Regions from separate parts of the Homo sapiens genome. Here region 2 is linked to region 1. The links come from fine-mapping of genetic effects on gene expression. A gene starts in region 1. The other region holds a variant in brackets. All regions are shown on one strand. Distances are from middle to middle.

Region 1 (11,523 bases):
AACTAACTCAAAACTGGGCACATGTAATAAGCAGTAGAGCCAGGGTTGGGGTCCAATTCTGACGCTAAAGCTTGTGTATTTTCCCTTGTCCAAGGTAGTGATTATGTTCTTAATTAGTATTATAGAACAGTTGGAATACACAAGGTAGTGACTATGGTTTCTGTTGTTGTTGTTGTTGTTGTTGCTTTTTGTTTTTTTTTGAGACAGAATCTCACTCTGTTGTCCAGGCTGGAGTGCAATGGCATGATCTTGGCTCACTGCAACCTCCGTGTCCTGGGTTCAAGCGATTCTCCTGCCTTAGCCTCCTAAGTAGCTGGGGTTACAGACATGCACCACCATGTCCCACTAATTTTTTTGTATTTTTAGTAGAATGGGGTTTCACCATGTTGGTCAGGCTGCTTTCAGACTCCTGACCTCAAGTGATCCACCTGCCTAGGCCTCCCAAAGTGCTGGGATTATAGGTGTGAGCCACCGCGCCTGGCCCATGTTCTTTAGACATCTTTCCCACCAGGAGATTCTCTGTCAGTGCTAAACCTTCAAGTTTTAGTTTTACTTACTGTTATTATCTCACCACATAGGTTCATTTTATTGAGCTGAAAGCTTACAAAAAGTCCACTGGTCCCTGCCCTGCCCGTGTTACACTCATTCCTTCCCATGCACACTCTTGAGGATCCACAAGTGCTTCCACATAACTGGTTTCCCCCAACAAAGCACAAAGGGTGGTGCTTCAAAAGCATCCGTTGTTCCTAGCAGCAAGACTTTCAATGCTGGGGTTTTATTTATTCTTTTTCTTTTCTTTCTTTCTTTTTTTTCTTTTTTTTTTTTTTCTGAGACAGAGTCTCACTCTGTTGCCCAGGCTGGAGTGTGCAGTGGCATGATCTCGGCTCACTGCAACCTCAGCCTCCCGGGTTCAAACAATTCTCCTGCCTCAGCCTACCAAGTAGCTGAGACTACAGGCGTGCACTACCACACCCAGCTAATTTTTTTGTATTTGAAGTAGAGACGGGGTTTCACCATGTTGGCCAGGCTGGTCTTGAACTCCTGACCTCAGGTGATCTGCCCGCCTTGGCCTCCCAAAGTGCTGGGATTACAGGCATGAGTCACTGTGCCTGGCCACTTTTTATCTTTGAAAGTGTTTTATTTCAATAGTTTTTGGGGTACAGGTAGGTTTTGGTTACATGGATAAGTTCTTCAGTGGTCATTTCTGAGATTTTAGTGCACCCGGTTCCCCAGCAGTATACACTGTACCCAATATGTAGTCTTTTATTCCTCACCCTTCTCCCAACCTTACCTTCTGAGTCCCCAAAGTCTATTATATAATTCTACCTTTGTGTCCTCACAGCTTAGCTCCCACTTATAAGTGAGAACATATGATAATTGGTTTTCCATTCCTGAGTTACTTTACTTGGAATAATGGCCTCCAGCTCCATCCAAGTTGGTGCAAAATACATTATTTTGTTCCTTTTTATGAATCAGTAGTGTTCCATAGTGTATATATAACACATTTTCTTTGTGTACTTGTTGGTTGCTGGGCACTTAGGTTCGTTCCATGTCTTTGCACTTGAGAATTGTGCTGCTATAAACATGCATGTGCAAGTATCTTTTTCATATGATGACTTCTTTCCCTTTGGGTAGATACCCAATAGAGGGATTGCTGAATTGAATGGTAGTTCTACTTTCAGTTATTTAAGGAATCTCCATACTGTTTTCCATAGAGGTTGTACTAATTTACATTCCCAAGAGCAGTGTAAAAGTGTTCCCTTTTCACCACATCCATGCCAACATCTATTGTTTTTTGACTTTTTTTTTTTTTTTTTTTTGAGGCAGGATCTCACTCGGTCACCCAGGCTGGAGTGCAGTGGCGTGATCTCAGCTCACTGCAACCTCCGCCACTCGGGTTCAAGCAATTCTCCTACCACAACCTCCCCAGTAGCTGGGAGTACAGGCATCCACCACCACACCCGGCTAATTTTTGTACTTTTAGTAAAGATAGGGTTTCACCATGTTGGCCAGGCTGGTCTTGACCTCCTGGCCTCAAGTGATGACCAGCCTCAGCCTTCAAAGTGCTGGGATTACAGGTGTGAGCCATCGTGGCTGGCCATTTTTCTTTATTCTATTCCAGTGGTCTGTGTTCCTGTTTTTATGTCAGTGCCATGATGTTTTGGTAACTATAGCCTTTTTTTTTTTTTTTGAAACGAAGTCTCGCTCTTGTCCCCCAGGCTAGAGTGCAATGGCATGATCTCGACTCACTGCAACCTCCGCCTCCTGGGTTCAAGCAATTCTCCTGCCTTAGCCTCCTGAGTAGCTGGGATTACAGGCGCCTGCCACCACACCTGGCTAATTTTTGTATTTTTAGTAGAGACGGGGTTTCACCATGTTGGCCAGGCTGGTCTCGAACTCCTGACCTCAGGTGATCCACCCGCCTTGGCCTCCCAAAGTGCTGGGATTACAGGCGTGAGCCACCATGCCCGGCAGCAACTGTAGTCTTGTAGTATAGTTTGAAGTTGGGTAAGGTGATGCCTCCAGATTTGTTCTTTTTGCTTAGTCTTGCTTTGGCTATGCGGCTCTTTTCTTGTTCCATATGAATTTTAGGATTTTTTTCTCCAGTTCTGTGAAGAATGATGATTGTATTTTGATGGGAATTGTATGGAATCTGTAGATTGCTTTTGGCAGTGTTGTGGGATGTGTTTCCATTTGTTCCAGAAGGGAGTATAACTGCCTCTGCTGCACATGAGTTCACAAAGGGAGTGGGGAGTAGCAGGCAGCAGCAAGCCTCACCCAGCTCCCATGCAGTTGGCAAGGCTGGTCTTGCTCCATCAGTGCCCTGTTAGCAGCACTGAGTTTAGATCCAGGCAGTCTGTGCACACTGTGACCTGAAACCACAGCTTTCAGGTCATGCCCTTCCCTTTCTGCTGGTAAGCTGAACACCCAGCATGTATGCTTGTGTCTCCTGCACACTTCTCGCTTGCCCACTGGTTTCTGCTCAAGGGAGTTCATCCCCACTCCAGATTATATCATAAAATTCAGTTGGGAGCTTCTTTCACCTTGGGACCCCTCCCTCAGTTTGTTGGCTGGCTTCCCTGAGGGCCCCTGTAAGATACAGTCAGGAATGGCTTCCCTCCATTCACAATAGAGACTGGGAATGCCTACGAGGCACTTCCCACTACTGCTTCTACGTTTATTTATTTCACGCCACTCCCTAAATCCATTCCGGCTCTGGGGAGGGTTAAAGCCTTCTCCTGTGGACTAGAGGTTCAGATTCCCTGGTAGGAATGTGTGCTTGGAGGAAGACTCTCCCCCTCTCACACTCTGGGAATTGACAGTTTTTCACCTGTCTCACAGAGTACGCTGCAGCCTGCTGCATCTTTCAAAGGGTCTGTGGATTCTTTCCCAGCTAATTTATAAAAAGCTCTTTTTGTAGAGACAGGCGTAGGCCAGGTGCAGTAACTCATGCCTGTAATCCCAGCATTTTGGGAGGCTGAGGTGGGAGGATTGCTTGATGCCAGGAGTTCAAGACTAGCTGGGCAACATAGTGAGACCCTATCTCTAAAAGAAAAGCGGGGAAAAGAGGGTTTTAGTTGACTGAAACCAGGACAAACATAAAGAAGGTCTCCCATTCAATTTATCTGGTTCTAAAAGCAGCTTTTTCCAATTGTGCACACGAATGAACTGTTTTAGACAAGACAGGGTCTTGCTATACTGCCCAGGCTGAAACACAGTGGCTCTTCACAGGCGTGATCCCACTACTGATCAGGAAAGGAGTTTTTGACCTGCTCTGTTTCCAACCTGGACCAGTTCATGCCTCCTTAGGCAAGCTGGTGGTACTGAGACGGGAGGCAGAACTCAACTCTGGAGGCAGGGCTTGGTCACCAGACCAAATTGAGAACTAGCTGAAACAGGTTTGGAACAGAAGCACCTCCCCATAAGACACGCCCACCACTGTGCCATGTCAGTTTACCATTGCCATGACAACACCCTGAAGTTATGGCCCCTTTCTGTGGCAATGACCTGACAACTTGGAGGATGCCACCCTCATTCTAGAAATTTCTGCATAAACTGCCCATTAATTTGCATATACTTAAAAGTGGGTATAGGGCCAGACACAGTGGCTCATGCCTAGAATCCCAGCACTTTAGGAGGCCGAAGTGGGTGGACTGCTTGAGGTCAGGAGTTCGAGACCAGCCTGACCAACATGGTGAAACCCCGTCTCTACTAAAAATACAAAAATTAGCCGGAGTGGTGGCGGGTGCCTGTAATCCCATTTACTTAGGAGGCTGAAGCAGAAGAACCACTTGAACCCAGGAGGTGGAGACTGTAGTGAGCTGAGACTATACCACTGCACTCCAGCCTGGGTGACAAAGTGAGACTCTGTCTCAAAATAAATAAATAAAAATAAAAATAAAATAAAATCAGTATAAACAGGAATGCAGAACTGCCTCTGAGTTGCTGCTCTGGGCACACTGCCTACAGGGTAGCCCTGCTCTGCAAGGAGCAGTAGCTCTGCTGCTGCCGGGTACTGCGGCTTCAATAAAAGTTGCTGTTTAACACCACCAGCTCACGCTTGAATTCTTTACTGGGTGAAGCCAAGAATCCTCAATTTTGGCGCTTTCCTGTCCTGCATCAGTCTCCTGCTCCTAGGAGTTCACCCTTGTTTGTTTGTTCGTTTTGAGGCGGAGTTTCGCTCTTGTCGCCCAGGCTGGAGGGTCCTCTTCTCCTGAACCTCAAAAAGGAGCCTAACCTTGAGGTACTGATCTATGTATGTGGATGAGAAGTGTTAGTAAAGATAATTGAGGCCAGGTGTGGTGGTTCACGCTTCTAATCTTTGAGAAGCTGAGGAAGGCAGAGCGCTTGAGTCCAGGACTTCGAGACCAGCCTGGATAACATGGCAAAAATCCGTCTCTACAAAAAAATGCCAAAAAATTAGCCAGGCGTGGTGGTGTGTGCTTGTAGTCCCAGCTACTTGGGAGGCTGAGGTGGGAGGATTGCCTGAGCCTGCGAGGTTGAGGCTGCAGTGAGCTGAGATTGCGCCACTACACTTCAGCCTGGGCAACAGAAGGAGACTCTATCTCTAAATAAATAAATAAATACGATTGGGTTGAAATCTAGAGACCTAAGTTATAGTCCCAGCTCAGCCACTAATCTGAGAATGGTTAACATTTATTTAAAATTTCCTATGTGCCAGTCACTTTTTAAATTAATTTGCTATGCTGTAAGTAGGAGGGTACTGTTATTATGTTCATTTTACAGACAAGGACATGGAGGCAGAGAGCACTTAAATAACTGGCAAATTACACGGTTAGGGGCACACAGAGTCCAGTTGTGCAACAGAGGCAATCTGGCTGGTAGTACTTCCTGATAACAGAAGCTTTCATTGCTAACATACTATGTGGCAGATTCTGTACTGTGTGTTTTTGTTTGTTTGTTTTTTTGAGACAGGGTCTCACTCTGTGGCACAATGATCATGGTTCACTGCAGCCTCGGCCTTCTGAGCTCAAGTGATCCTCCCGCCTCTGCCTCCGCCTCCTGAGTAGCTGGGACTACAGATGTGCGACACAGCACCTGGCAAATTTTTAAGTATTTTCTTCAGACTGAAACATCATTGTGTTAAAGATAAAAAAGTAAAAAATATTCTTGTAGAGATAGGATCTCACTGTTGTCCAGATTGGTCTCAAATTTTTGAGCTCAAGCCATCCTCCTGCCTTGGCCTCCCAAAGTGCTGGCATTACAGGGTGAGTCACCATGCCTAGTCTGTACTGTTTTCCTGGCAATGTTATCTCATTCAATCTTCGTGAATAACCCTAAGGTAGATATGATACCAATTTTTCAGGTGAAAAAAACTAATCGGCAGGATGAAACTTCGTAAACAGCCTGTGGCTCCAAAAGCTTCTGGAAGGCTCAAGCTACCCATGTGCATCTTTGAGCCTCAGTTTCCCCATCTTTAAAATGAGGGGTTTGGAATAGATGTCTGTTCTCTGGGGCAGGATGCAGAGGAAAGAGCTGTCTGCGAATGGGCAAGAGAGAAGGTGGGTAAATACAGTTAAACCACAGTGACCGAGGGCCCAGCACAACGGGGGTGGGTGCGGTTACAAATGCCGTTAAGATTCCCGCCAAGGCGGAGGACGGGGGTGTCAGAGCCGAGCGAGGCCTGTGGGCGAGAATAGGCCTGACAGCCATTCTCCGACCTGCGTGGGCGCTGCAGGCGCAGGCCAGAGGCCAAGGGAGAGGCGATCCCTGGGGCTCTGCCCGGGTCTCAGGACGGCACCTCACCCGCCCGAGTCCTGCTCCACAGGATTCTCCGGGTAAGCTAGGGAAGGAAGAGGCGCGGCCTCCTGAGCCCGCATCTCAGAGCGCCACGTCCCTCCTGGCTCAGCCTCCCACCAGGCTCCACAGCTTCGGCCCTCCTCACCGCCCGCCTCCAGGCTCCCCGGCGCGGCCTTGTCCCTGCTCCCGCCAATCGGCGTCGTCAGCAATCGCGAACCGGACCAATCAGCGGCCGCAGAGTGTGGGAACTGTCGCCATGGCAGCCAGGAGGCGGGCGCGCGCGGCGGGAGGAGGGGCAGAGCGGAGCGGTGGGCCGGGGGCTGGAGGACAGGTTTGTGCGCTGGACGCAAGCACCAGGCGCAGCCTCGCTCGCCGAGACCCGGCCAGGTAAGGCCGGTGGCCGCGCGGTAGGTGCGGAGCAGCGCGGCGGGAGATTAGGGGTGGGGGAGTCCGGAGATAAGGCTCCGGTCTTCGCCTGCCTTGCCAGAGCAGAGAGGATGGTGGGGGCCGTGCTGTGGGCGGGGCACCGGCGGGGAGGGGGCTCCCAGCGCGAGCCGGAGGCGCTGGGTTCCCTCTGCTCCACTCGCAGCTGGGCACCCGAGCTTTCTTCGGGGTCGAGGAGGGTGGCTGGCTCTTGGCGGGGAGCAGGAGAGGGTAGGTGCCAAACCGAGACCCTGGCGGGGTCCCTTCGGGTTTGGGCAGGTCGATGGGCAAGGGGGTGCCCACTAGTGAGGAGGGACACCCACCAATTCCAGGCGATGCTCCCCTGTGCCGCTCAGCAAAGCTAGGCCCGGGGATCCTGCTCTTCTCCGGTCTGGTTAAGCCAGCAACCTCTGACACTTAGGAGAAAGTTAGTGTAAGTCGTGATATGCTTTTCACTTAAGTGACAAATTAGGTACGAGATGAACCCTTTTGGTTTTAGGAGATGAGAAACAGTATTTCCTTGTTGCACCTGCTAAGTGGCAACTCAGTGAGCAAATATGGTTATTGTGGTTGGTGTTTGCAACGGTCTTAGATGACAGTTATTTTACAGTATCAAATGGCTGGGAGAGGGAGGGAAAGAAGGAGAGAGAGAGAGAGAATATGAGGGAATGAGAATGAACGGGAACCATTATGATTTTTGAGAGACAGAACCTCTTGAAATTCTATGTCTGCTAAACTTCTAAATTGAATAATGTACATTTTATGCAATTGAATAAGCTAGTGCTACCATTTAAGCCTGCTACTAAGGCTCTGTTAAATCCGTGGACGAATATGAACACTAAAAGATATTACCTTGGTTTAAAAATAGGGGAGGTTAAATGCAAATATTTCTGATAGTGAATTTTGTTTGAGGGAGATTGTGGACTTTCCCTATGGGAAAGTTAAAGAATTGATGAGATAGATGCTTTAAGGAATGTTTTTGTTTTTTGAAACTTGAATAAGTTCAACAAATGTTGAACAAATATTTCAACAAATCTTCTTCAGCTAATAGGGTCAAAAATTAAAATTCTGGAAATTTAGAATTAGAAATGAAATCTCAAATAATGTCACTCTCCTAATTAGGATGAACATGGAAACTTCTATTTCTCATCGTGGTCTTCAAGCTTTCCATGATCTCATCTACCTTTGTAGTAGGGGGTCAAATTTTTTTTTTAACTAGACAATTTTAGAAACTTAAAGGAGGCAAAAATTTATTTCTGTCTCCGTGTGTTTACTCATGCTCTTCTCTATCCAAATTTTACCCATCTTTTTTTTTTTTTTTTTTTTTTTGAGATGGAGTCTCACTCTGTCACCCAGGCTGGAGTGCAATGGCCCGATCTCAGCTCACTGCAGCCTCCGCCTCCCGGGTTCAAGGGATTCTCCTACCTCAGCCCATCGAGTAGCTGGGATTACAGGGACCCACCACCACAGCCAGCTAATTTTTTGTATTTTTATTAGAGACGAAGTTTCACCATGTTGGCCAGGCTGGTCTCGAACTCCTGACCTCAGGTGATCCACTTGCCTTGGCCTCCCAAAGTGCTGAGATTACAGGTGTGAGCCACCGTGCCTGGACGACCCATGTTCTAAGAGTCGAATCTGTCTATGTTGTGTTTACCTTTCTTTGCTCTCCCAAGGTACATATTGTTCATATCACGTATTTTGTATATATTCTTTCAGCATGCTTTTTGCCAAGTTGGTTTGCGCTCTGTGAATAACAGTTGAGATAAAATGCACAATTAAGACAATTAAGGTACTTTTCAAGACACAACTAATTATGGGCACTAATATCAATAACATCAATTCAGATGTCTTTTTTGTTTTGGGATATGTTATTAATCTCTGAACACATACTAAACTAATTTTGCATTACTTAGAATAATATGTAAATTACTTTCCACTTTCTAAGGACCCTTTTGAAGGCTGGGTTCTACAAAATACCCTTTTGAGTACTGGGTAGCTGGCAGAAGCAAGTGCAGGATTTAAAAATGTATTGAAAATAATCCTTTAGGCCGGGCATGGTGGCTAATGCCTGTAATCCCAGCACTTTGGGAGGCTGAGGCGGGTGGATCACTTGAGTCCAGGAGTTCAAGACCAGCCTGGCCAACATGGTGAAACCCCGTCTTTACTAAAAATACAAAAATTAGCCAGACGTAGTGGCGGGCATCTGTAATCTCAACTACTCAGGAGGCTGGAGCAGGGGAATCGCTTGAACCTGGAGGCGGAGGTTGCAGTGAGCCGAGATCGCGCTATTGCACTCCAGCCTGGGCAACTAGAGTGAAACTACGTCTCAAAAACAAAACAAAAAACAGGCTACTAACAATTTCAAATAATTTATTCAAGGAAAAACTTCAATCACTTTCATTATTTCCAATCAAAAATTTTTTTTACAACCATGATGTGGTGAAAAGTATACTTAGTTAGAATTTCATGGCCAGATTCCAGTACGGGCTCTGCCAAACGAACTTGGCCAAGTCAGTTAACTTCCTTCTGTATTTATAACCTTTTATAAAAGTAGGGCTGAATTAGATTACAGTAGTCCTCCTTTATCCTAGAGGGATATGTTCCAAGGGTCCCAATGGATGCCTGAAACTACAGGTAGTACCAACCCTTATATACGCTATGTTTTTTGCTATACATACATAATAATAAAATGAATAACAGTAATACACTGAAATGAAAGTTATATGAATGTGATCTTTCAAAATATCTTGTTTTACCTCAGGTAATTGAAACTGCAGAAAGTGAAATCGCAGATTAGGGAGGACTACTGTACCTCCAAGATTATTTCTGATCTTAGAATTCTCTGATTCTAAAATCCTAAAGCAGCCTAATAGAAGTTCAGATAGTAGTTACTTGATTTTATTTTTGGCAGAGCATTTTTTTTTTTTTTTTTTTTTTTTGAGACAGGGCCTCACTCTGTTGCCCAGGCTGACTGGAGTACAGTGGTGTGATCATGGCTCACTGCAGCCTGGAACTGCCAGGCTCAAGTGATCCTCCTACCTCAGCCTCCTGAGTAGCTAGGACTAAAGGAGCATGCCACCACACCCTGCTAATTTTTAAGTATTTTTTTGTAGAGAAGAGGCCTCGCCATGTTGTCCAGGCTGGTCTCAAACTTCTAGGCTCAAGCGATCTGCCTGTCTTGGCCTCCCAAAGTGCTGGAATTACAGGCATGAGCCACTACACCTGGCCTTGGCAGAGTTTTTTTTGGCAGTGTATTTTAATTATCTGAAGTACAGTATATGTAAATAATAAAGAGATTATAATTTTAATAATATGTTTATTGAGTGATACAGATCTGTTTTTCATAAGCCTATAATCTAGGATACTCCAATCCGTTGTTAAGACTGGAAAAAAAGGAGATATAATAGTTTCATTGATGAGTGTCCTTTTCTACAGATGTAGACAACAGAGGCTCTAAGATCTATACTAATGTCTTGATCAGGGAAAAGCTGGAGTCCAACTCAGCTGGTCATACACTTGATATTTTATTTGAACCTCACTTTCCTGTTGACTTTCATTTTCAAAGGGAAAATGGAGGTGAGCACCAGGTTATCTGTGGCCTTTGAAACTGGTGCCATGGAGAAACTCAAAAGCCGTTTATTTTTCTTCACCCTACCCTGTTTCATCATTAGATTTGTGACATTGATAGTAAGAAGAAGCAATCCACGTTTCCTAGCTCAAGGCAGTGTCTTAGAGAAGGAAACCTGAGTCTCTTGCTACAGTTCTGATTTAAGGTTGGAAGGAAGAGATTATGTTGGATGCATTGCTTTCATTGGTCTATGATTGCATCAGGACTTTGGTTCTGGCAATGTTCAGAGAAGAGCTCTAATGTGGCCTTTCAAAAATGACTGTAAGACCGGGCATGATGGCTCAGGCCTGTAATCCTTGGACTTTGGGAGGCTAAGGTGAGCAGATCACTTGAGCTCACAGGTTTGAGACCAGCCTGGGCAACATGGTGAAATCCCATCTCTACCAAAAATATTAAAAACTAGCTGGGCGTGGTGGTGCGTGCCTGTAGTTCCAGCTACTCTGGAGGCTGAGGCGGAAGGATGGCTTGAGCCTGGGAGGTGGAGGTTTTGATGAGCTGAAATAGCGCCAATGTACTCCAGCCTGGGTGGTAGAGTCAGACCCTGTCTCAAAAAACAAAAACGAAAACAAAAATTACTTTTAAAGTTGTATGTCAAACTGGTCTTGCTTGCTTTTTGTGTCGTTAATTTTTATTTATTTATTTTATTTATTTTTTTTAGACAGGGTCTTTCTCTGTCATCCAGGCTGGAGTACATTGGTATGCATGGCTCGACCTCCTGGGCTCAAGCAACCCTCCCATCTCAGCTTCCTGAGTAGCTGGGACTACAGGTGCACACCACTACACCCAGCTAATTTTTTGATTTTTTTTTGTAGAGGTGGGGTTTCACCATGTTGCCCAGGCTTGTTTTGAACTCCTGGGCTCAAGTGATCCACCCGCCTCAGCCTTTCAAAGTGCTGGGATTATAGGTGTGAGCCACCATGCCCAACCTGGTCTTGCTTTTTAAGTTCTACCACTTTGGGTGTTTACAGAACAGATTTTCATATTTCTTTATGTTTCCTTTTCAAGACAAGAAGGGCATTAATATTTATTGAGCAATTACCATTGTCATGCACTGTGCTGGTTACTTTGTATTCATTCTTATTTTCCTCGCATCAACAAACCTGTGAAGAGGTATGAGCTCAGTTTTCTAGGTAGGAAAATCAAGACTCAGAGGCAAGTAGCTTGCGAGTAAATGGGGGAAGTTAGGATTTAATCTCCTGTTTGTGTGTTTA
Region 2 (11,523 bases), 69 kb after region 1:
CTCCCGGGTTCAAGTGATTCTCCTGCCTCAGTCTCCTGAGTAGCTGGGACTCCAGGCGTGTGCCACCATACCCAGCTAATTTTTGTTTTTTCAGTAGAGACGGGGTTTTGCCATGTTGGTCATGCTGGTCTTGAATGCCTGACCTCAGCCGATCCACCTGCCTCAGCCTCCCAAAGTGCTGGGATTACAGGTGTGAGCCACTGTGCCTGGCTAATGGAATTTTCAAATGAGTAATGATTTATTTTCCACATGATTTCAAAGTTATGACTAGTCCAAGTGATTTTTTTTATTATACTTTAAGTTTTAGGGTTCATGTGCACAACATGCAGGTTTGTTACATATGTATACGTGTGCCATGTTGGTGTGCTGCACCCATTAACTCGTCATTTAACATTAGGTATATCTCCTAATGCTATCCCTCCCCCCTCCCCCCACCCCCACAACAGGCCCCGGTGTGTGATGTTCCCCTTCCTGTGTCCATGTATTCTCATTGTTCAGTTCCCACCTATGAGTGAGAACATGTGGTGTTTGGTTTTTTGTCCTTGCGATAGTTTGCTGAGAATGATGGTTTCCAGCTTCATTCATGTCCCTACAAAGGACATGAACTCATCATTTTTTATGGCTGCATAGTATTCCATGGTGTATATGTGTCACATTTTCTTAATCCAGTCTATCATTGTTGGACATTTGGGTTGGTTCCAAGTCTTTGCTATTGTGAATAGTGCCACAATAAACATACGTGTGCATGTGTCTTTATAGCAGCATGTTTTATAATCCTTTGGGTATATACGCAGTAATGGGATGGCTGGGTCAAATGGTATTTCTAGTTCTAGATTCCTGAGGAATCGCCACACAGATTTCCACAATGGTTGAACTAGTTTACAGTCCCACCAACAGTGTAAAAGTGTTCCTATTTCTCCACATCCTCTCCAGCACCTGTTGTTTCCTGACTTTTTAATGATTGCCATTCTAACTGGTATAAGATGGTATCTCATTGTGGTTTTGATTTGCATTTCTCTGATGGCCAGTGATGATGAGCATTTGTTCATGTGTCTTTTGGCTGCATAAATGTCTTCTTTTGAGAAGTGTCTGTTCATATCCTTTGCCCACTTTTTGATGGGGTTGTTTTTTTCTTGCAAATTTGTTTGAGTTCATTGTAGATTCTGGATATTAGCCCTTTGTCAGATGAGTAGATTGTGAAAATTTTCTCCCATTCTGTAGGTTGCCTGTTCACTCTGATGGTAGTTTCTTTTGCTGTGCAGAAGCTCTTTAGTTTAATTAGATCCCATTTGTCAATTTTGGCTTTTGTTGCCATTGCTTTTGGTGTTTTAGACATGAGGTCCTTGCCCATGCCTATGTCCTGAATGGTATTGCCTAGGTTTTCTTCTAGGGTTTTTATGGTTTTAGGTCTAACATTTAAGTCTTTAATCCATCTTGAATTAATTTTTGTATAAGGTGTAAGGAAGGGATCCAGTTTCAGCTTTCTACATATGGCTAGCCAGTTTTCCCAGCACCATTTATTAAATAGGGAATCCTTTCCCCATTTCTTGTTTTTGTCAGGTTTGACAAAGATCAGATAGTTGTAGATATGCGGCATTATTTCTGAGGGCTCTGTTCTTTTCCATTGGTCTATATCTGTGTTTTGGTACCAGTACCGTGCTGTTTTGGTTACTGTAGCCTGATGCCTCCAGCTTTGTTCTTTTGGCTTAGGATTGACTTGGCAATGTGGGCTCTTTTTTGGTTCCATATGAACTTTAAAGTAGTTTTTTCCAATTCTGTGAAGAAAGGCATTGGTAGCTTGATGGGGATGGCGTTGAATCTATAAATTACCTTGGGCAGTATGGCCATTTTCACAATATTGATTCTTCCTACCCAGGAGCATGGAATGTTCTTCCATTTGTTTGTATCCTCTTTTATTTCATTGAGCAGTGGTTTGTAATTCTCGAAGAGGTCCTTCACGTCCCTTGTAAGTTGGATTCCTAGGTATTTTATTCTCTTTGAAGCAATTGTGAATGGCAGTTCACTCATGATTTGTCTCTCTGTCTGTTATTGGTGTATAAGAATGCTTGTGATTTTTGCACATTGATTTTGTATCCTGAGACTTTGCTGAAGTTGCCTATCAGCTTAAGGAGATTTTGGGCTGAGACAGTGGGGTTTTCTAGATATACAATCATGTCATCTGCAAACAGGGACAATTTGACTTCCTCTTTTCCTAATTGAATACCCTTTATTTCCTTCTCCTGCCTGATTGCCCTGGCCAGAACTTCCAACACTATGTTGAATAGGAGTGGTGAGAGAGGGCATCCCTGTCTTGTGCCAGTTTTCAAAGGGAATGCTTCCAGTTTTTGCCCATTCAGTATGATATTGGCTGTGGGTTTGTCATAGATAGCTCTTATTATTTTGAAATATGTCCCATCAATACCTAATTTATTGAGAGTTTTTAGCATGAAGTGTTGTTGAATTTTGTCAAAGGCCTTTTCTGCATCTATTGAGATAATCATGTGGTTTTTGTCGTTGGTTCTGTTTATATGCTGGATTATGTTTATTGATTTGCGTATGTTGAACCAGCCTTGCATCCCAGGGATGAAGCCCACCTTATCATGGTGGATAAGCTTTTTGATGTGCTGCTGGATTCAGTTTGCCAGTATTTTATTGAGGATTTTTGCATCGATGTTCATCAGGGATATTGGTCTAAAATTCTCTTTTTTTGTTGTGTCTCTGCCAGGCTTTGCTATCAGGATGATGCTGGGCTCATAAAATGAGTTAGGGAGGATTCCCTCTTTTTCTATTGATTGGAATAGTTTCAGAAGGAATGGTACCAGCTCCTCCTTGTACCTCTGGTAGAATTAGGCTGTGAATCCATCTGGTCCTGGACTTTTTTTGGTTGGTAAGCTATTAATTATTGCCTCAATTTCAGAGCCTGTTATTGGTCTATTCAGAGATTCAACTTCTTCTGGGTTTAGTCTTGGGAGGGTGTATGCGTTGAGGAATTTATGCATTTCTTCTAGATTTTCTAGTTTATTTGCATGGAGGTGTTCACAGTATTCTCTGATGGTAGTTTGTATTTCTGTGGGATCGGTGATGATATCCCCTTTATCATTTTTTATTGCATCTATTTGATTCTTCTCTCTTTTCTTCTTTATTTGTCTTGCTAGCGGTCTACCAATTTTGTTGATCTTTTCAAAAAACCAGCTCCTGGATTCTTTGATTTTTTGAAGGGTTTTTTGTGTATCTCTTTCAGTTCTGCTCTGATCTTAGTTATTTCTTGCCTTCTGCTAGCTTTTGAATGTGTTTGCTCTTGCTTCTCTAGTTCTTTTAATTGTGATGTTAGGGTGTCAATTTTAGATCTTTCCTGCTTTCTCTTGTGGGCATTTAGTGCTATAAATTTCCCTCTACACACTGCTTTGAATGCGTCCCAGAGATTCTGGTATGTTGTGTCTTTGTTCTTGTTGGTTTCAAAGAACATCTTTATTTCTGCCTTCATTTCGTTATGTACCCAGTAGTCATTCAGGAGCAGGTTGTTCAGTTTCCATGTAGTTGAGTGGTTTTGAGTGAGATTCTTAATCCTGAGTTCTAGTTTGATTGCACTGTGGTCTGAGAGATAGTTTGTTATAATTTCTGTTCTTTTACATTTGCTGAGGAGAGCTTTACTTCCAAGTATGTGGTCAATTTTGGAATAGGTGTGGTGTGGTGCTGAAAAAAATGTATATTCTGTTGATTTGGGGTGGAGAGTTCTGTAGATGTCTATTAGGTCTGCTTGGTGCAGAGCTGAGTTCAATTCCTGGATATCCCTGTTAACTTTCTGTCTCGTTGATCTGTCTAATGTTGACAGTGGGGTGTTAAATTCTCCCATTATTATTGTGTGGGAGTCTAAGTCTCTTTGTAGGTCTCTAAGGACTTGCTTTATGAATCTGGGTGCTCCTGTATTGGGTGCATATATATTTAGGATAGTTAGCTCTTCTTGTTGAATTGATCCCTTTATCATTATGTAATGGCCTTCTTTGTCTCTTTTGATCTTTGTTGGTTTAAAGTCTGTTTTATCAGAGACTAGGATTGCAACCCCTGCCTTTTTTTGTTTTCCATTTGCTTGGTAGATCTTCCTCCATCCCTTTATTTTGAGCCTATGTGTGTCTCTGCACATGAGATGGGTTTCCTGAATACAGCACACTGATGGGTCTTGACGCTTTATCCAATTTGCCAGTCTGTGTCTTTTAATTGATTTAATGGTGAGAGAGAAAAAAAAATTGCATCTAGTTCTCTTTGCTATCTCCCATGAATCATTGCATTTAACATGTTATTTCTGCTCAACTTTAGTTCATTTTCAATGTGCATTTTTAGTGATGTCAGAGTATGTGTCATTTAATTAAATCCCCGCCCTTGCTTTAGATTTTCTGTGCATGGGGTGTGAGGCACATATGCAGTCTGTGCCATGTTGTATTTGTTTTGTACCATGTTGTTTGGCCTATTTTGCTTCCATGCTGTCCTCCATTGTTAAGGTGATTTGGAGTTGTTTTACTTTTGAATTTTATCCTTTCTGTTCTTGGTGTGACAACTTTCTAAATATTTCCTTATTAAAGTAGTGATATATAGATGATTTCCTTTTTAAAGCATATTTACTATGTCCTTTAATGTTTTAAACAGTTTTATGGAGGTATTTATTGAAGTATTTTTATCAAACATGACTATTTAAAATCCCTATCAACTTTGTGTAGTGATTCTTTCTTGTTCTATGACACTTAGTAATATATCTTAGAATTTGCATCTTAATTTTTTTCTAACTAAATCTCAGTCCTAATCCCATATCATTTTTTATTTCTTTTGATATGTGTGTGTATTTATTCCCTTTGATGTTCATAGTATGTTTCATTGAGGTTCAAGGTTGATTTTTTGGGGAAAAGAAAAAGCACCTTTGCAGAAAAGTCAGTTTTTCTAGAGCTAGTTAGGCAGGCCCTCATTCCTGGTTTGGTTTCAATTGCAGAGAGTTCTTGTATCTCTGCAGGGGAATTTCTGACTCATGGGGTGGGTCCCTGACTCCTTACTCCTCTCTGATTGAGTGAACCAGCATCTGGGGCAAATACGTAGCAGTCAGATGCTCTGATGAATGTCCCTGTTCAGTTCTTTGACTTTTTTGTATCCTCCTTAAATAATAATGGTTTTAAAGATAAGCAGAAGCCTATCTATAGTACTTTATAGATCTCAGCAGGGATTATTCATCTTACAGTTAATACAGGAAGAAACATCTTTGATACGGAAAGACTAGGGTGTTAATTCAGCAATCTCTGGTTAGGAGAAAAGTAGCCTAGTTTATTACTTCTTCACTACTTTTGCCTGGATGACCTGAATTTTAATCAAGAAGTTCTTTCCTCTCTATATGCGCTCCCCCATTTTCCCACTTTTGTATTGACTTTCCCACTATTGTATTTCTAATGCACCTTCTTAATCACTGGAGAAAGCTTTGAGGCATGTAAGAGGTCCTAGCACCATTTTCAGTCTTAAAGTTTCATAGCCACCAGCTTTATGGGACTCTATTATCAGGCCTTTCAAACAAATTCTTCCCTTCCCTCACAATCCCAAGCTATTGATCTTTTCTCTAAGGAAGCCTTTTGTATTACTAATTAAGACTAGGTGACTATATTAAAACAGGGTTATCTTCTAAAAGATTTATATAAATGATAAAACAGAGGCTAAGTATTTTTGTAAGGACAGCAATTTGAAGTCAGTTAATGCCTAGAGTGACTGTTTCATTCTTCTGCTATGGCTCTGGTGACTTCCTGATAATTCTGTCCGAGCCCCTGTGTCCAGTTCCAGGACCTAAGAATGGAAGAGCTCTGGAGGCTGAAGGTGGAAGATGGATCCCCCTTTCAGGGACAGTGAAAGGAGGGTTAATCTTTCCTGAAGCTGTTAGTCTGGTATCTATTAGCACACATGAGAATTAGAAACCTTGCAACTTTAGAAATAGTATCTGTGTAGTAAATGCTGTCTGTGTACCAATTTGTATAGCTTTTAATAGAAATATCTTATTTTTGGATGGAAAATGTGTGTAAGCTTGTGACTAAAATAGTTCTGGATGGAAGACCATTCAGTATCTTCTGAAAAAAAAATTGTCTTCTGGAACTAAAACATGAAAAAAAAACCTATCCATTATTGCTTTTTTTTAAATAAAGAAAACCAGTGCTGTGTAATCCATATTTTACCAATATTAATTATGTCTTAGAACCATTTAAGAATGATGGTTTACATATCCTATTTTAAAGTCAAGATTTTAAAGAGCTTTTATTTGTTATTACTAATTATTGGGAGAATATTGAAAAATTTTCAATTTAAATGTTGAATTAAAAATGTAACCTTTTTGGCTGGGTGCGGTGGCTCACGCCTGTAATCCCAGTACTTTGGGAGGCCAAGGCGGGTGGATCACGAGGTCAGGTGTTAAAGACCAGCCTGGCCAAGATGGTGAAACCCCATCTCTACTAAAAATACAAAAATTAGCCGGGCGTGGTGGTGGGCGCCTGTAATCCCAGCTACTCAGGAGGCTGAGGCAGGAGAATCACTTGAGGCCGGGAGGCGGAGGTTGCAGTGAGCCGATAACGCACCACTGCACTACAGCCTGGGTGGCAGAGCGACACTCCGTCTCAAAAAAAAGAAAAGTAACCTTTTATAAATATGGGGCTGAAAACGTTATTTTTAAATTTTGGAAAAAGTTCTACTAGCTTGAAGATTACTTAGATTTATTTTTTCTTGGCTTATTTAGATATTTGGCCTATTTTTAAAACTATAAATAAATAATTGGATTTTAATTTGATAGAGAATCAGAAAAACAGAGACTTTATATAATTTTTGTTACATTTGAATTCATTTTATAAATATATGTTGTAAAAATTCTTCCAGTGCAATATTTTTTGGAAAATATTGTTCTAGTCGTTGTTTGTATAGGTTTATTTCTAATTATATTAAAAGTAAAATTAGAAAAATATGTAATATTTGTTGTAATTTTCTGGGAAAAAAGATTTGACAATGTTAATAGAATGGATTATTTGTAAAACACCAATATTAGAGAGTCATAGAGCCTGAGTAAGGGCCTTAGATACTATCTTCCAATGAAGGAACCCCTTCTCCAGCATGGCTAGTAAGTGGTTATCCACCTCCTGCTTCAAGTCTTCCAGTGATAGCATTGAAGTGGAAATCACAGTGGTTTCCAGGCTTGTCTGCATATTGGAATCACCTAAGAGATACAAAAAATACTGGTACCTGGGTCCCATCTCCAGGTGATTCTAATATGCAGACAAGTTTGGGAACCAGTGGTAAATCATGTGGAAAAGCACCTCACTCTTTTTCATCATTAGAGAATCCATAATGGAAAGGAAACCTGGCTGATGTTATGAAGAGTCTAATAAGCATTTAGATGTCATTGAGAGCATTTATAGCCACACTCCCTACCCTTCAGTGTTGTATGATAAATAAATATTTCCATTTAAATTCAAGAACCATTTAATAAGATAGCACACTGACAGAGTCCATGATGTTGGTATAGTGGAAAGTCCTGGACTGGGTGTTAGGACTTCTAGCTGCCCAACTTTAAATAATTTTAGCCTTACAAAAAATTTGCAAAAATAGTATAAAGAATTCCCATATGCCCTTCATCTAGCTTCCTCAAATATCAACATGTTATATAACTACAGTAAAAGTATTACAATCAGGAAATTAACATTGATACAATTCTATAAACTAATCTGCAAATTTTGCCAGTTATCCTACTATAAA[T/A]TTTTTCTGCGCTAAGATCCAATCTGGGATCACACATTGCATTTAGTTTTGTTATGTGTTTGTTATTTTGAAAAAAAATTAAATCATTGCAACGATAGTATAATGAATTTGTGAACCCCGAAAATTTGAGACAGGTCTCAGTTAATTTAGAAAGTTTATTTTGCCAAGGTTGAGGACACAGCCATGACACAGCCTCAGAAAGTCCTGACGACATGTGCCCAAGGTGGTCGGGGCACAGCTTGGTTTTATACATTTAGAGAGACATGAGACATCAATCAATATATGTAAGAAGTACATTGGTTTGGCCTGGAAAGGCAGGACAACCTGAAGCAAAGGCAGGAAGGCTCTAAGTGCGGTGGGAGCTTCCAGGTCACAGGTGATACACAAAGGGTTACGTTCTTTTGAGTTTCCCATTTTGAGTTTCTACCTTTCCAAAGGAGGCAAGTCAGATATGCATCTATCTCCGTGAGCAGAGGAGTGACTGAATAGAAACAGGGCAACAGGAGACAGGTTTACCCTAAGCAGTTTTTCATCTTGAGTTTTCCTTAGTGATTTTGGGGACCCAAAATATTTTCCTTTCACAAATTCTAGTATACCTTGCTTTCACTCTTTCTGTCCAATTCTTTGTTTGACTGAAGCGTTTCAGAATTAAGCTGCAAACATTGTGATCCCTTACCCTAAATATGTGAGCATCTCTTATGAACAAATATTTTTTTAATCATAACCATCATATAATTATCAAATTTGGGAAATTTAACATTGTTACAATACTATTAATCTAACACATAGTCCGTATTCAAATTTCACCAACTGTCTCAATACTGTCCTTTATAATAATTTTTTCATGATCCAGGATTTGTGTGTTGGATTTTGTTGTAAGGTCTCTTTAATTTCCTTTGATCTGGAATAGCTCCTCAGTTGTATTTTGTCTTTCATGACATTTACATTTTTTGAGAGTACAGGTCATTTGTTTTATAGAATGGCTCTCAATCTGCATTTGTCTAGACTGGTCTTTCTCACAGTGTGGTCTGTGACTGGTGCTGGTCTATGCCTGGCTGTTACCTAATGGTGAGAAGGCCAACCAACATTACTCATGCTGTTGGAAACTTTTATAGCAATTCAAAAATAATTTTATGTCTTTTGAATCTAAGAATAAAAATTGAGGGCTTGGATTTTTATGTCTTTTTATTTCATTTCTCTAGTAATTCATTTTTATTTCACAAAATGACAGTTCTTCGTGGGTTGGACACTTATTTTTTATTTTTACTTTTATTTTTTAGAATTAAGAAAAAATAATAGAGACAGGATCTTGCTATGTTGGCCAGTTGGTCTTGAACTGTTGCCCTCAAGCAGTCCTCCTGCCTCTGCCTCCCAAAGTGGGTGAGCCACCATGCCTGGCCAGGTTGGACACTTTTAAAGAGTCCTTCAGCACAGCTACTTGGAACAACAATGGTCTAGAATGAGGTGTTTTTTGTTTGTTTTTGTGTTTTTTTTTTTTTTTTTTTTTTTTTTTTTTTTGGAGACAGAGTCTCACTCTGTCACCCAGGCTGGAGTGCAGTGGTGCAATCATGGCTCACTGCAGCCATGACCTCCTGGCCTTGAGCCATCCTCCCTCCCACCTCAGCCTCTCAAATAGCTGGGAATATAGGTGACACCACCACACCCAGCTAATATCTTGATTTTTTTTGTGGAGATGGGGCCTCACTATGTTGCCTAAGCTGATTCCAAACTCCTGAGCTCAAGTGATCCTCCTGTCTTGGCTTCCCAAAGTGCTGGGATTACAGGCATAAGCCACTACACCTGGCCTAGACAGATTTTTTGAAGCTAAGGACTGTGCTTTAGCCATCGCTGAATTCGTCACTCCTAGATTGTGCCTGGCAGAGTTCAATAAATTGTTGCTGAGGGGCAACTTGAAATGTCCCATTCCTTTAATAGAAAAGCTTTCCTTTCCTTTTTTTTTTTGAGACAGAGTCTTACACTTGTCACTCAGGCTGGAGTGCAACGGCATTGATCTCGGCTCACTGCAACCTCCGCTTCCCGGGTTCAAGTGATTCTCCTGCTTCAGCCTCCCGAGTAGCTGGGATTACAGGCGTCTGCCACCACACCTGGCTAAGTTTTGTATTTTTAGTAGAGACAGGGTTTCACCATGTTGGCCAGGCTGGTCTCGAACTCCTGACCTCAGGTGATCCACCCGCCTCGGCCTCCCAAAGTGCTGGGATTACAGGTGTGAGCCACCGCGCCCAGCAGAAAGCTTTTCTTATACTGAGCCAAAATCTCTCTCCAACTTGCTTTTGCCTTCAAGAACATCACCTAACATGTGTACTCACATACACAGGTGTTAGCTTTTCAGAGACTTACAAGACTGGTACCATTTCTTAAACCCCCAGGCTACTCCAAACAAAATGGGCTCAGCTCCTTTACTCATTTGTAGTGATTAGGATTAGGTTCTGCTGAAAATGAGAACATTTTAAATAAGAGTAGCTTACTGACTTTATTTCTTATGTTCCACAGGTCCAGAGGTGTCCTTCTAAAGCTGGTAGAGGTTTCACGAGTCATCAGGGACCCAGAACCCTTCTCTTTTGCTGTCCCTTTGTCCTAGTGCATGGTTTCCACACTGTGGTGCAAGATGTCTCCTCAAGCTCTAGGCATTACATCTGCTATCCTGCTGTCAGAAAGAAGGAAGGGGAAAAGAAGATCATTTCCTTCTCTTTAAGGACATTTCCCAGAAGTCACACAGAACATTTCCATTTATATTACTTTGGCCAGAACTTGGTCATATGGCCACATTTAGTTCCAGAATGATTAGGAAATGCAGTCTTTTATTGATCCCTGTGCCCAGGAAAATATTGGAGGCCTTTTTCAAGGAAAAAGGGGAAAACAGATATTGGTTGACAAATAGCAGTCTCTGCCATACTGTCCCTGGATACATGTCTTTGAGTGAATGTCCCTTATTTACCATTCTGATTACTTGTTGGATATTTTCAATATGTGTTACAATATGGTTCCAAAATTGTATGTGATATTCCAACAGCAAGTTGGATGCAATGTGTCATAAAAATGACCTCAGTGTCAACCAGCATTTGAATACCGTGTCTCAATGCTGTGCACCAATAAAGAACACAGAAAGTCAGAGTTTTCCATAAATAATTCCTGAGAATATATGCTTATTTTGTTTGAGAAGCATCGTGAGGTATCTGCTGTGTGCTTTAGGGTTGAATGGAAAGTTGGCAAAAGTATTAAAAGACATGTTCAGGCCGGGTGTGGTGGCTCACGCCTGTGATCCCAGCACTTTGGGAGGCCGAGGTGGGCGGATCACTTGAGGTCAGGAGTTCAAGACCAGCCTGGCCAACATGGTGAAACTCTGTCTCTACTAAAAATACAAAAATTAGCTGGGTGTGGTGGCAGGCACCTGCAATCCCAGCTACTTGGGAGGATGAAGCTGAGGCACAATAATCTCTTGAACCTGGGAGGCAGAGGTTGCAGTGAGCTGAGATCACGCCACTGCACTCCAGCCTGGGCAACAGAACGAGACTCTGTCTCACCAAAAAAAAAAAAAAAAAAAAAAAAAAAAAAAAGATGTTCAAATAGACATGATATTGGTAAAAACGAAAACACAGGTAATGACTTTTCATTCTAATGAAATATAAATAGAGAAACCTGCCGGTTTTACCCTTTAGAGTAAAAAGGGTACAAAAAAATTACCAAAACAGTAAAAATTACCAAAAGAGTAATTTGATAATTTCTACAGGGTGATGTGTATGTGTC

What was found. PIP is the estimated chance that this variant, and not a neighbour inherited with it, causes the effect.
Region 2: its variant is fine-mapped to the expression of NUCB2 in whole blood (TOPMed, PIP above 0.99).

Annotation. Positions count from the first base shown.
Region 1 is chr11:17,270,181-17,281,703 of GRCh38, forward strand. It overlaps NUCB2 (nucleobindin 2), which reads left to right and starts at 6,559. Exons shown (of 14, transcript NM_005013.4): 1 at 6,559-6,648. RefSeq lists an enhancer at 6,113-6,202 and a silencer at 6,393-6,822.
Region 2 is chr11:17,339,076-17,350,598 of GRCh38, forward strand. LOC124902640 (a long non-coding RNA gene) reads left to right here. Exons shown (of 2, transcript XR_007062608.1): 2 at 2,726-6,970. It also overlaps a transcript of NUCB2 not described here. Among named protein-coding and RNA genes, the nearest start is that of NCR3LG1, 7.0 kb to the right of the region's middle. The variant T/A (reference allele first, on the strand shown) is at 7,759.